Regions from separate parts of the Homo sapiens genome. Here region 2 is linked to region 1. A link means that fine-mapping ties the variant in region 1 to the expression of a gene that starts in the linked region. Tissue or cell type: subcutaneous fat. Region 1 holds a variant in brackets; the other region holds the start of a gene. All regions are shown on one strand. Distances are from middle to middle.

The links. PIP is the estimated chance that this variant, and not a neighbour inherited with it, causes the effect.
Region 2: it holds the start of CDR2, and the variant in region 1 is fine-mapped to the expression of CDR2 in subcutaneous fat (GTEx, PIP above 0.99).

The regions. Positions count from the first base shown.
Region 1 is chr16:22,670,801-22,675,947 of GRCh38, forward strand. No RefSeq gene overlaps it. Among named protein-coding and RNA genes, the nearest start is that of LINC02890, 60 kb to the left of the region's middle. The variant G/C (reference allele first, on the strand shown) is at 2,627.
Region 2 is chr16:22,372,113-22,377,259 of GRCh38, forward strand. It overlaps CDR2 (cerebellar degeneration related protein 2), which reads right to left and starts at 2,507. Exons shown (of 5, transcript NM_001802.2): 1 at 2,119-2,507. The coding sequence starts at 2,197. It overlaps CDR2-DT (CDR2 divergent transcript), which reads left to right and starts at 2,775. Exons shown (of 3, transcript NR_148970.1): 1 at 2,775-3,111; 2 at 3,215-3,448. RefSeq lists a silencer at 2,040-2,269 and enhancers at 2,810-2,889, 3,230-3,279.

The sequences.
Region 1 (5,147 bases):
AGGTTCCCCAGCGTGAGGGTGGGTGCTGTTGCCTGAGGAAGGGGAGTTGTTTAAAACAAGAGGAGAAGCTGCAAGTAGACTACTAGTAACGAGAGAGCAGACCTGAGAAGCAAACCAGAAAAAGGGACTTCTATTAATTTGTCACCAGGACACACTGCCGTTTCATGTGCAATGCAGCTGTGCTTCAAATCGGCCCCCTGTGTAATTTCAAGGATAAATATAGAGCTTTTTCAATAGTTAAAAAAAATCTAATGGCAAGAACTAGATACATTTCTGTGCGTTTTATGAAGAAATTTACTATTTTTTTGAGTAGAGAATACTTGAGTAATATATTCATGTAGTTCAGAACTCAACATGATGCAAAAATATATACACGTGACAGTCTCATTCACATCCCATTCTCACCCTCAGGCTTATATGTAAGCACTTACTTGTTTCTTATATACCCTTCTGGTTTTTTTTTATTATTATTTATTTTTTATTCTGCTATAAGTTCAGATGAGTATGTATGAGTATATGAAAGATTTGTGCTGAATTTCCTTTCTGGATGGTGTTGGGGACCTGAGGAAGCCCAGGGGAAGTTGGAGGTCTATTTCATCAGCCTAGTAACACCTCTGGGATTCTCCCATTGACCCTAGGTCTTTTGTGGGGTCTTGGGTACACTACAGTCCTCGGCCCCCTGCTGTATTTCTGGGGGAAGGTCTCAGGCTTCCGGGCCTGGGAATAAGTACTCTTATTTCAATGGAATACTCCAGTTCTTCAGGCCTGGGGAATGTAGGAGTTCAGCTTAGTTTCCAGATTCCTCCCAGTCCTCTAGGGCAGGGGTCTGCAAACTGCAGTTGGAGGGCCAAATCCTGTCCATCACTTGTTTTTTTTTAAATAAAGTTTTATTGGAACACAGCCACAATAATTTGTTTACATATTACTTGTGGCTGCTTTTGCTTTATAGCAGCAGAGTTGAGTCATTGAGACAAAGATGGTACAGCTTTTGAAATCTAAAATATTTTTTATGTTGTTCTTTATGGAAGTTTGCCAGTCCCTGCTGTGAGAGCTGAAAAGGAAATGAGGACCTTGTTCTGGAAGTGCTTCCCAGTGGTTGGAGAAGCCCTTAGTGGCCCAAAACGAGGAGGCCATCACTGCAGAGAAGGAGCAGCTCAGTCAAAAGTCTGGGAGTCATCCTTGTCACCTCCTTTCCTTCATCCTATCCCCACCCCACATTCGATTCCATACCAATGACTCTTGATTTTTCTTCTCCAAAATATTTCTGGATTCTGTCCTCTTCTCTCCGTCTCCAGCAGCATCACTGCTTCATCTCTTGCCTGGACCACTGCAGTCACCTCCTCAGCCCCTTTCCTCCTGCTTTCACGGTGAGGCTGTTGCAATCCATTCTCCACCGAGCAACCGAAGTCATCCTTGCAAGGTGTGGATCTGAAAATCCTTCAATGGCTTCCTGTTGCACTTGGGATAGTGACCCAAAGCACAATCTGGCCTCTGCCCACTTCTCCGGAGCCCTCTTGTGTCATGCCTACCACCAGCTCTCTCTGCACTCTGGCCACACTGGTGGTGCTGGGCTCCTCCGGAACAGGGCTTTCCCACAGACTATTTCCTGTGCCCACATGCTCCCCACTCTTCCTGCTTTTCCAGTGAGCTCCTTCTCATCCTTCAGGTGTTACCTTGACCATCACTTCCTCTGACAAATCTCTCTTGACGTCTTTTACTGGGTAAATGCCCTCATTACAGGCTGCTGCAGCCCTGTGTCCCCATTCTCCTGAATCGTGTTGAAGTTGCAGTTCTACATGTATGTGTGAGTGTGTGTGTGTGTGTGTGTGTGTGTGTGTGTGTGTGTGTGTGTGTTGGTCACCTTCTCCATGAAGGCAGGAACCCACATCTGGCCTTGCTGACTATGGCGTCCCCATTGCCTAGTATAGTGCTTGGCACATAGACCCTCCATAAATATTTATCAAATAGATAAATAATGAATCTTACTCCATTCCAGCCATTTCCGGGTATGGGAGAGATTCTGCTCTGCTCTGCAACTTGCTGAGGTTTTAGGTGCCAAAGTCTTAACTTCATCCCTTGAGAACCACGTTTAACAGAGTGAGTTGGCAGAGCCAACCTAGCCTGGTGTTGATTGAATGCCACTTTGAGATGGCAGCTGCTGTATTTCTTCCAGTTGGTGTCTCCAGCCCCAAACAGGGTGTACACGACAAGCTTTTCTCCAGACTGTGTCTTGGAGATCTGTCATACCAAGAGGGATGGATGCTTGTTCCATTTGCTTTTCCAGCTTCTCTGCACCTGGTCTCCCCACAACCCAACCAGTGAAGATGCTAGTGAGGAAGGCAGACAGGTGTCTCAGCGCCTTCCCCATCCACACCCCCACTAGCTGTTAAGTATTCCATGGGATCCAGACAGAGAATTTTATTTGTTTTTCTGGACCCAAGCTGCCCCTTGACACAGCCGGTGATTGCTTTTTTTTTAAAAACCACGAAGGAGAAACTAGGTTTTTTCATATACTGATAAGGTGTCAGGTGACAGAGAGATCAGCATCCCAACACATAAATCTGCAACTAATCCTTAGAAATCAATATTTTTCATTAAGAACCTGTGAGAGTTGGACCATTATGGG[G/C]AAAATCTGTTTAGGTTGACACCTTGATGAAGTTATTCAGTTCAGGGGCTTAAGTCATTGAAAGGTAATAAAGAGCACGGAGCAATCTTGGGACTGGTTAGGGGAGAAAACGATGGGAGTATTTAGCTTCAGTTCAGTGAAAAATGACCTCCTGATTTATTGGGGAATGATGGGGTGCTGGCCTCTTGGGCAGGCTGAGCCAGACACCATGCACATGGCAGCCTTTCACTCTCACCACCTCTCCTCCCTCTGCAGTCACTGCTGTTTATAAGCTGCCTGGCAATAACAAAGCAGTAGGGATATATTTAGAGGGTTTGGGAGATTTCCAATATTCTCTAAGTCCCCACCCACATAATGCTCTTTCACATTTTGGACTTTCTCCTGTAGGTCACAAGGAATGGGGGTATTTAATTATTCTAATAGTTTAACAATGAGATTGAATTCACTTTTGTAAAATTGCCTTTATGACCTATTAGATCTGAAAGGACCCAGTTCATTGTCAGAAAGAACCAGGGTTATTCGAAGCCAATCCCTGGTATCGTCAGGATCAAAAGGGTAGCATCAAATATTTCCTCGTGGGTCTCAATTGTCCATAGACAATCACATTGGATGGGATCTAGGAAGTACATTTTCTTATCTCTCTCTCCTTCTCTCCTTTCTTTCTTTCTCTTTCTTTCTTTTTTCTTTCTTTCTTTCTCTTTCTTTCTTTCTTTTCTTTCTTTCTTTCTCTCTCTCTCTCTTTCTTTCTTTCTTTCTTTCTTTCTTTCTTTCTTTCTTTCCTTCCTTCCTTCCTTCCTTCTCTCTCTCTTTCCCTTCCTTCCTTCCTTTCTCTCTTTCTCGCCTCTCCTTCTCTTACTCTTTCTTTCTTTCTTCCCTGTCCATGATCCCAGATCCATCTTTCTCCAGTCCTCTGTAATCAATGCCAGATGACAGCCATTCCTGATTTTGTCCTGGGAACTGCATGGTGGATTCTCACATTCTTGGAGTAGACCATTTAGAAGACAAACAAATCTCTGTCTTATGACTATTGATTCCCTCTCAGCATAACTTTCATCCATTTATAAGTGCTGGCAGCCACGCTGCATGGAAATATCCCTTTGGTACCTTCTTGAAAGGTCAACAGAGTGCTGCAGCACAGTGTTTTAGATTTGATGAAATATGATATGATTTCTGATTTAATACAGTTGAAAGATGTCCTGTCTGGGTGTGAGGCTGAGGAAGTATTCAAGTGATGAAAGGTACAGAGAGTCCCATTCCACTGAAAAGCCACACTGGCAGCTGGGTGGGATGTGTGTGGGCAATTGCAGTAGGGATAGTAAGAGGAGGGTGGATTCAAGAAAGAGTTAAGAATTCAAATGGATAGGAGTGCTAACAATTTGGATTAGGAATCCGTTCATGTGTTGAGCTTTCACTACCTCCTCATCACTTAGAAAGAGTGGGAGGAAAAAGAAGATAAGAAGAGCCAAGAAGGGAATTCAGATGAATGTCAAGAACTAAGGCACAAATAGAGGCACAGTCAGAGAGAGAGAGGGAAAAGCAGAAGGGAGTGGAGTCAGGGGAGCCAAGGGTGGAGAAGGACAGAAGGATTGACCGAGCCACTGTCCTCAGAGGTTGTGTAAGATCACTACTCAAAATGTCTATTTCGCTGGGCAAATATGGTGTTTTCTATGACCCTACTCAGAACTGGCTCAGTGCGGTGATGAGAGCCAGAGAGCAGTGGATGGAGGGGTGGGTAGAACTCAAATCCTGGGGCTTCTCTCTTGCTGTGTTCCACAGAGCTATGTTTCCAGATATGTCACCCTCACAGAGCATGATGTGAATGGCACTCCTGGAGGTTCTGGATGGAAGTGGAGTCCCTGAGCATAGACTACACTACTCTTGAGTCTCTTGGCTGAGAAGAGAAGGGAGGAGGCAGTAGCTAGTGGGGAGTATCTAGCTCTGAGGGGATGGTGGTGGTGAAGAGGCATCCATTACTATTAAAAACAAAGAGGGGCCAGGTGCGGTGGCTCACACCTGTAATCCTAGCACTTTGGGAGGCCAAAGTGGACAGATCGCCTGAGGTCAGGAGTTCAAGACCAGCCTGACCAACATGGTGAAACCCCGTCTCTACTAAAAATAGAGAAAATTAGCCTGGTGCAGTGGCACGCACCTGTAATCCCAGCTACTTGGGAGGCTGAGGCAGGAGAATCGCTTGAATCCGGAAGGCAGAGGTTGTGACGATGAGCTGAGATCGTGCCACTGCACTCCAGCCTGAGTGACAAAGCAAGACTTTGTCTCAAACAAACAAACAAACAATAAAACAAACAGGGCAGGAAATAAATGAAAGGGTGGGATCTAGAAAAAAAATGGGGAACCTAACTTTGTACAGGAGCCACCTGTCTTCCACTGAGCAGCAGGAAAGGGGATAAGTGTCCACCCATCCCTAGCTCTTTAATGGAGCTCGTTCCCTGATACAACATACGCTGGGATTCTGTTGGGCTCAGTCTTTTTCTAGATCACAGTTGCCAGGCCAGACCAGGAA
Region 2 (5,147 bases), 300 kb before region 1:
GCCCGCCTCGGCCTCCCAAAGTGCTAGGATTACAGGCATGAGTCACTGCGCCCAGCCCAGACCTGTGTTTTTAAGGTTAAACTTGAAGAGCTGATGACTTTATTTTGATCAGAGGTTAAAGAGAATTCCTCGTGTAACCCTGACACGTTGCACTTGCTGCTCGGTAGATTGAAGTGTTACAGCTGTTGTTCCTAACAACCTCCCACAGCGGGAGAATGCAGCGTGGACTAAGGCACCTGATGGAAGAGAGCCATGAAAACAATTCTGTGCGAGTGCTTCAGTGCAGTTCAACAAATATTAAAATCGAGCTTCCAGTATGTGCCAAGTATTATGCTAGATGCTGGAAACACAAGAAAAAAGAACCTGCCCCCTCTATGCCCTTAAAGATTAATGCTTCTTAAATACAGGAAAGAGAAATATTTAGTTGTGATGATACAAATTAAATTATAGGGAAGTACTGCAGTGGTACAGTGGTTGCCTCACAAATCCTGGAGAAACTATCAAACTAGGCCATCAATCCTTACGGGGAAATCTGAAAACAGGTTTGTTAATATGTATAATAAATTTGTCTCTTGGACATAAAGAAGATGGTGCCAAACACTGCACTGCAACCACTAAGTAGCTTGGACTCTGTAAGTGTAATAAAGGTGAATTACTTTGGTTAAAGTGATTGCATGTTAATTTAAGAAATTATCTTCCTCCAAAAGAGGTGCTCATTTTATTTTCCTTTTCTGAGTTATTCAGGTCTACATTCTTTTCTTCTGCCATGTTCAGTGGTTAGCATGAACAAGCAACATGATCATTTAATATTCAACTAAATGAGATGTTAATTTTCATTGCAAGATTAGAGCTGAGAGCATTTACACAGAATTGCAGAAACTGAAGATGCCTGGAAAAATTCCTGAGGATTGTTCAGTACTCAGTATAGCGGTTAAGAACGTTTGCTCTGGAGTCTTAAGGAGAACCCTAGCACTCCCCAACATTACTACCTCTATTGTGTTACTGGGAGAATTAAATGAGCAACTGTGTTATGGGCCTATCAGTGTTAGGCACATAAAAAGTGTTCCCCAACTGCTAGCTCCTGCTATTAGTATAAGAAAAACAGGGGCCCCACTGGCCCCAAAGAGTGGGCTACTCTACGATTGTTCTCTGGAGACACCATCGGCAGGCCTGTTTCTAAGTGAAAGCTGGCGTGCAAACTGAAGAAAAGTGGCAGAGATAGATGCGCTCTTTCTTCTGTCGTTTCAATTGGCATCTGGTGAACTATGCCTAACAGCTTAACGCCCAACTGAAAAAAACTGTAAACTAGGATGGTAAGGAAGAGATGGGGTTTGAGCAGTGACTACAACTCTTCTTCTGAGTGTGTGGGTTCAAAAAACACTCCCTCCCACACTTAGCTTTAGGCAAGCCACTTTACCGTTTTAATCTCCGCTTTCCTCATATGGAAAATGGGATAACAAAAGTGTGTAATTGGATTGTTTGTACCTCAATGGATAAATGCTGGGATGGACGCCCCGTTCTCCATCACGTGCTTATTTCACACTGCGTGCCTGTATCCAAACATCTCATGTACCCCACAAATATATACACCTACCATGTACCCTCAAACATTAATTTTTAAAAAGTTACTGTCTCCTGGAGTTACGGTGCGGAGCGCACAGCTCCCGCTACGCCGCAAAACAACTACCACCTGCAGCAGCCGGCCCTCCACGCTGGCCATGAAAGGCGCTGGGCTAGACAGCCTGCGACGGGGCGGCTTCTCGGGCTATGCCACTTACTGCGGGACACACTGGCTCACCCGGGTCTGCCTCGGAGGAATGCAGTGAGGATTAAACTAGCTAATCCACGGAAAGCGCTTAAAACGGTGCCTGGCTCGTCCCTGGCCCCCACGCGCCTCGGGGCTGATATTCAACTGCGCATTAGCAAGGCCGTGGGCCCCGTGCCGAGGCTTCCTGCGGGCGGGATCCGCGGGCACGGCCGGCCCAGCCGCCAGGTGAGCCTGAGCCCTTCCCGGCACCTGCATCCTCCGCCGCCACAAAAAGCAACTTTTTAACAGTTTCGCAGCGGGGGCCTCCCGGGCCAGGCCGCCGCCCGCCCGCGGGGCGCCCCCGCCCTCACCTTGCTGGAGGTCCTGGTGGTCGTACCACGGCTCGTCCTCCTTCATCTCAAACTCCTCTACCAGGTTTTCCGCCAGCATCTCGGCTGGGTCTTCTAGGGGCAGCGGCCCCCGCCGCCGTCCCGCCTCAGCCGCTGCCCCGGGCTCTTCCCCGGCCCCTCCGCCCTCAGCCAGAGCCGCCCTCGGGCGGGACGCGCCGCCGCCCAGACTCCGCTGCGCCGCCTCAGCCCCGTTCCCGCCGGCGGCCGCCGACCGGCCGGCTGCCTCGACTCGCCTCGCGCCTACCGACGGCCCCAACGGCCGGGCATTACGGTGCGAACGCCTGGAGCCGGAGTCTCACGCAGCCGCCAGTCTTCACGCCGCCGCCGGGCCCAACGTGGCACTTTGGCAGAACCCTCCCCGGCCGGGGATGCGATTCAAACCCCCGGCGGCGCCTCAACCAATCGCGAGCGGGCTGCTGGCCGAGCGGCAGGGACTTCGTCCAATCGCCTCTCTCCAAAGACCGGCGGCTCGCCCGGTATCGAGGGCAAGCAGCCAATGGTGGGTCCGGAATAAACAAAGAAGGCGGGGAAAGAGTGAAGGGGTGCGGCCGAAAGCCCGTCCCCTGATCTGCGCTGTGAGGCTCCTAGGAGGGCGTTCTGGGTTTCGGGCTGGGGAGCTGGCAGAGGCGCGTCTTACCCCTGTGGTGGGTGTCCCGAGGCCGGCGCGTCTGTGGACAGGCAACGCAGGCCGGAGGGCCTAGGACTCCGGCCTCTGAGAGGCGGGCGGTTGTCCAGGGGAGTCCTTCGTGCCGGCGGGAAGCGCAAGGGTGCCGGAAGCCTGAGGTCCGCCGCCCGGCCACCCCTTCTCGCATCTTGACTCTGAGATTTGCTCCGGGTCCGGCGGGGAGACTCGAGGTCGATCGGGAGTTTGGGTTGAGAAAACGCCCACTGAGCGGTAGCTCTTGTCTCCTTGACATCTGAGCCCTGGGAATTAAACTCACGCTACATAAAACGGTGGGCACCAGACCCCCTTGAGAATCTGGGGCGGTGAGGGATGCCCGAAGCTGTCCACTTGGAGGGCGAAAATTGTAAGCAGTGTTGCAACGATTTTTAAAAGGTACCCCTAGACCACAAGTTAAGCATCTGGGGACGTGACATTGCACCTGGAGGGGACAGGCTGCAGCTCCAGCACTTAGTAGCCAGCGAGGCAGAGCACGCTGTCCTCCACCGACATAACCCAGCAAATACTGCTCCTAGGTAAAGCTTTAAGCACCATCTTGCAGACAAAGCACGGAAACTCTTAAGCAGGATGACAGACCTGAAGGTCAATGTTCTCAACCTTGACGTAAAGGTAAAGGTGCAGCTGATGGAAGACAACAGGGCCAATATCTAACTAACTTTGAGCAACGAAACAAAAAAAAATCGAGGTTTAAGTATACAATTGAAAGATTATCTCTAGAACATGAGGTAATAAACTGTTAGAAATTCAGAGAGAGGGAAGAGGTGGAGAGGAGTGTTAAATCCTGATCTATTTTAGAAGTGAGTCGACAGATAATACCTTACATTGATAATCCAATGAATAGTTTCCACAAATATGGAGAGAGCTGCCAGAACTAAAAATGGGAAGCAATTAAGAGTTTTCCGAGGCTGGACACGGTGGCTCACGCCTGTAATCCCAGCATTTTGGGAGGCCGAGGCGGGCGGATCACCTGAGGTCGAGAGTTCGAGGCCAGCCTGACCAACATGGAGAAACCCCATCTCTACTAAAAATACAAAATTAGCTGGGCGTGGTGGCGCATGCCTGTAATCCCAACTACTTGGAAGGCTGAGGCAGGAGAATTGCTTGAAACCCGGGAGGTGGAAGTTGCAGTGAGCCGAGATTGCGCCATTGCACTCCAGCCTGGGCAAAAACTGCGTCTCAAAAACCAAACAAAAAAAAAAAGTTTTCCTAAGAGGAGGAGTGATTTGAGGCTGGGGACTTTGGCTTTTTGTTATAAACCCTTCTGTGATCTTGCTTTTTTAGTTACTTGCACATTAAAAATAAGGGAAATTGTAGGGAAGGAATTATAGACTCAAGCTACTTTTTTTGTCTTTCTGTATAAAAAAAGACTTGGGTAATTTGGAAGGGGGGAAAAACTCATCCTGAATAATTCTTGTGGGTAATAAAATTCAGGGTGTCTCTCTGCCTCCCATCTTTGCTCAAACCAGCATAACCTAACCTCACGCTGATGCTGTATCAAACAGCACTTGACTCCAGGGTTACCTTACACATAGGCTGTAGGCTACTCTGGAGAAGTCTTGCCAAGGACAAGACCTCCCACTGTGGAGTTGTTACCTGAAGTTTTACCCTTCAGTCCTTAAAGGAGACTGCTGAATAGAGTGGAAAGCACAAGGGACCTAGAGTGAGAAAACCTAGAGTTCTCGCCATACTCAGTACCAGCAGAGAAGCCTTTTAGCAAACAGTTTACAGGAAAGATGATTGTTTGCCTTGCTCACAGAGCTATCTGAATCAGAGAGACCCTGAAAGCAAGTATTTTGTGCTCATTTTAAATGTAAGGCTGTGTTCTTGTGACCTATACTGTAGAAGTGCAGGTACCCTTGAGGACCAATTATGAGCATCACAATAAATAATCATAGTAATGGATTATAACCCATTGAATAAAAAGGAAAGAATCCATGAGTCCATACTGACATAAATAAATGGGAGAGAAAAGAAAACTTTCTTACAGTAGGATGCCAAGCAAAAAATGTAGAAGGAATAACACTGTTAGAAAGTAATAATAATAATAAAAGAGGAATGGTAAACTCACAAATCCCTTTCTTCAAAAAGGCAAAATGTTACTGGCACACCTGTAGTCCCAGCTACTTGGGGGGCTGAGGTGAGAGAATTGCTTGAGTCCAGGAGTTTGAGGTTACGATGAGCTATGATAGGTGACAGCAGAGCAAGACCCTGTCTCAAAAAAAAAAAAAAAAAAAAAAAAAAAAAAGGCTGTGTACAGTGGCTCATGCCGTAATCCCAGCTCTTTGGGAGGCTGAGGCAGGCAGATCAC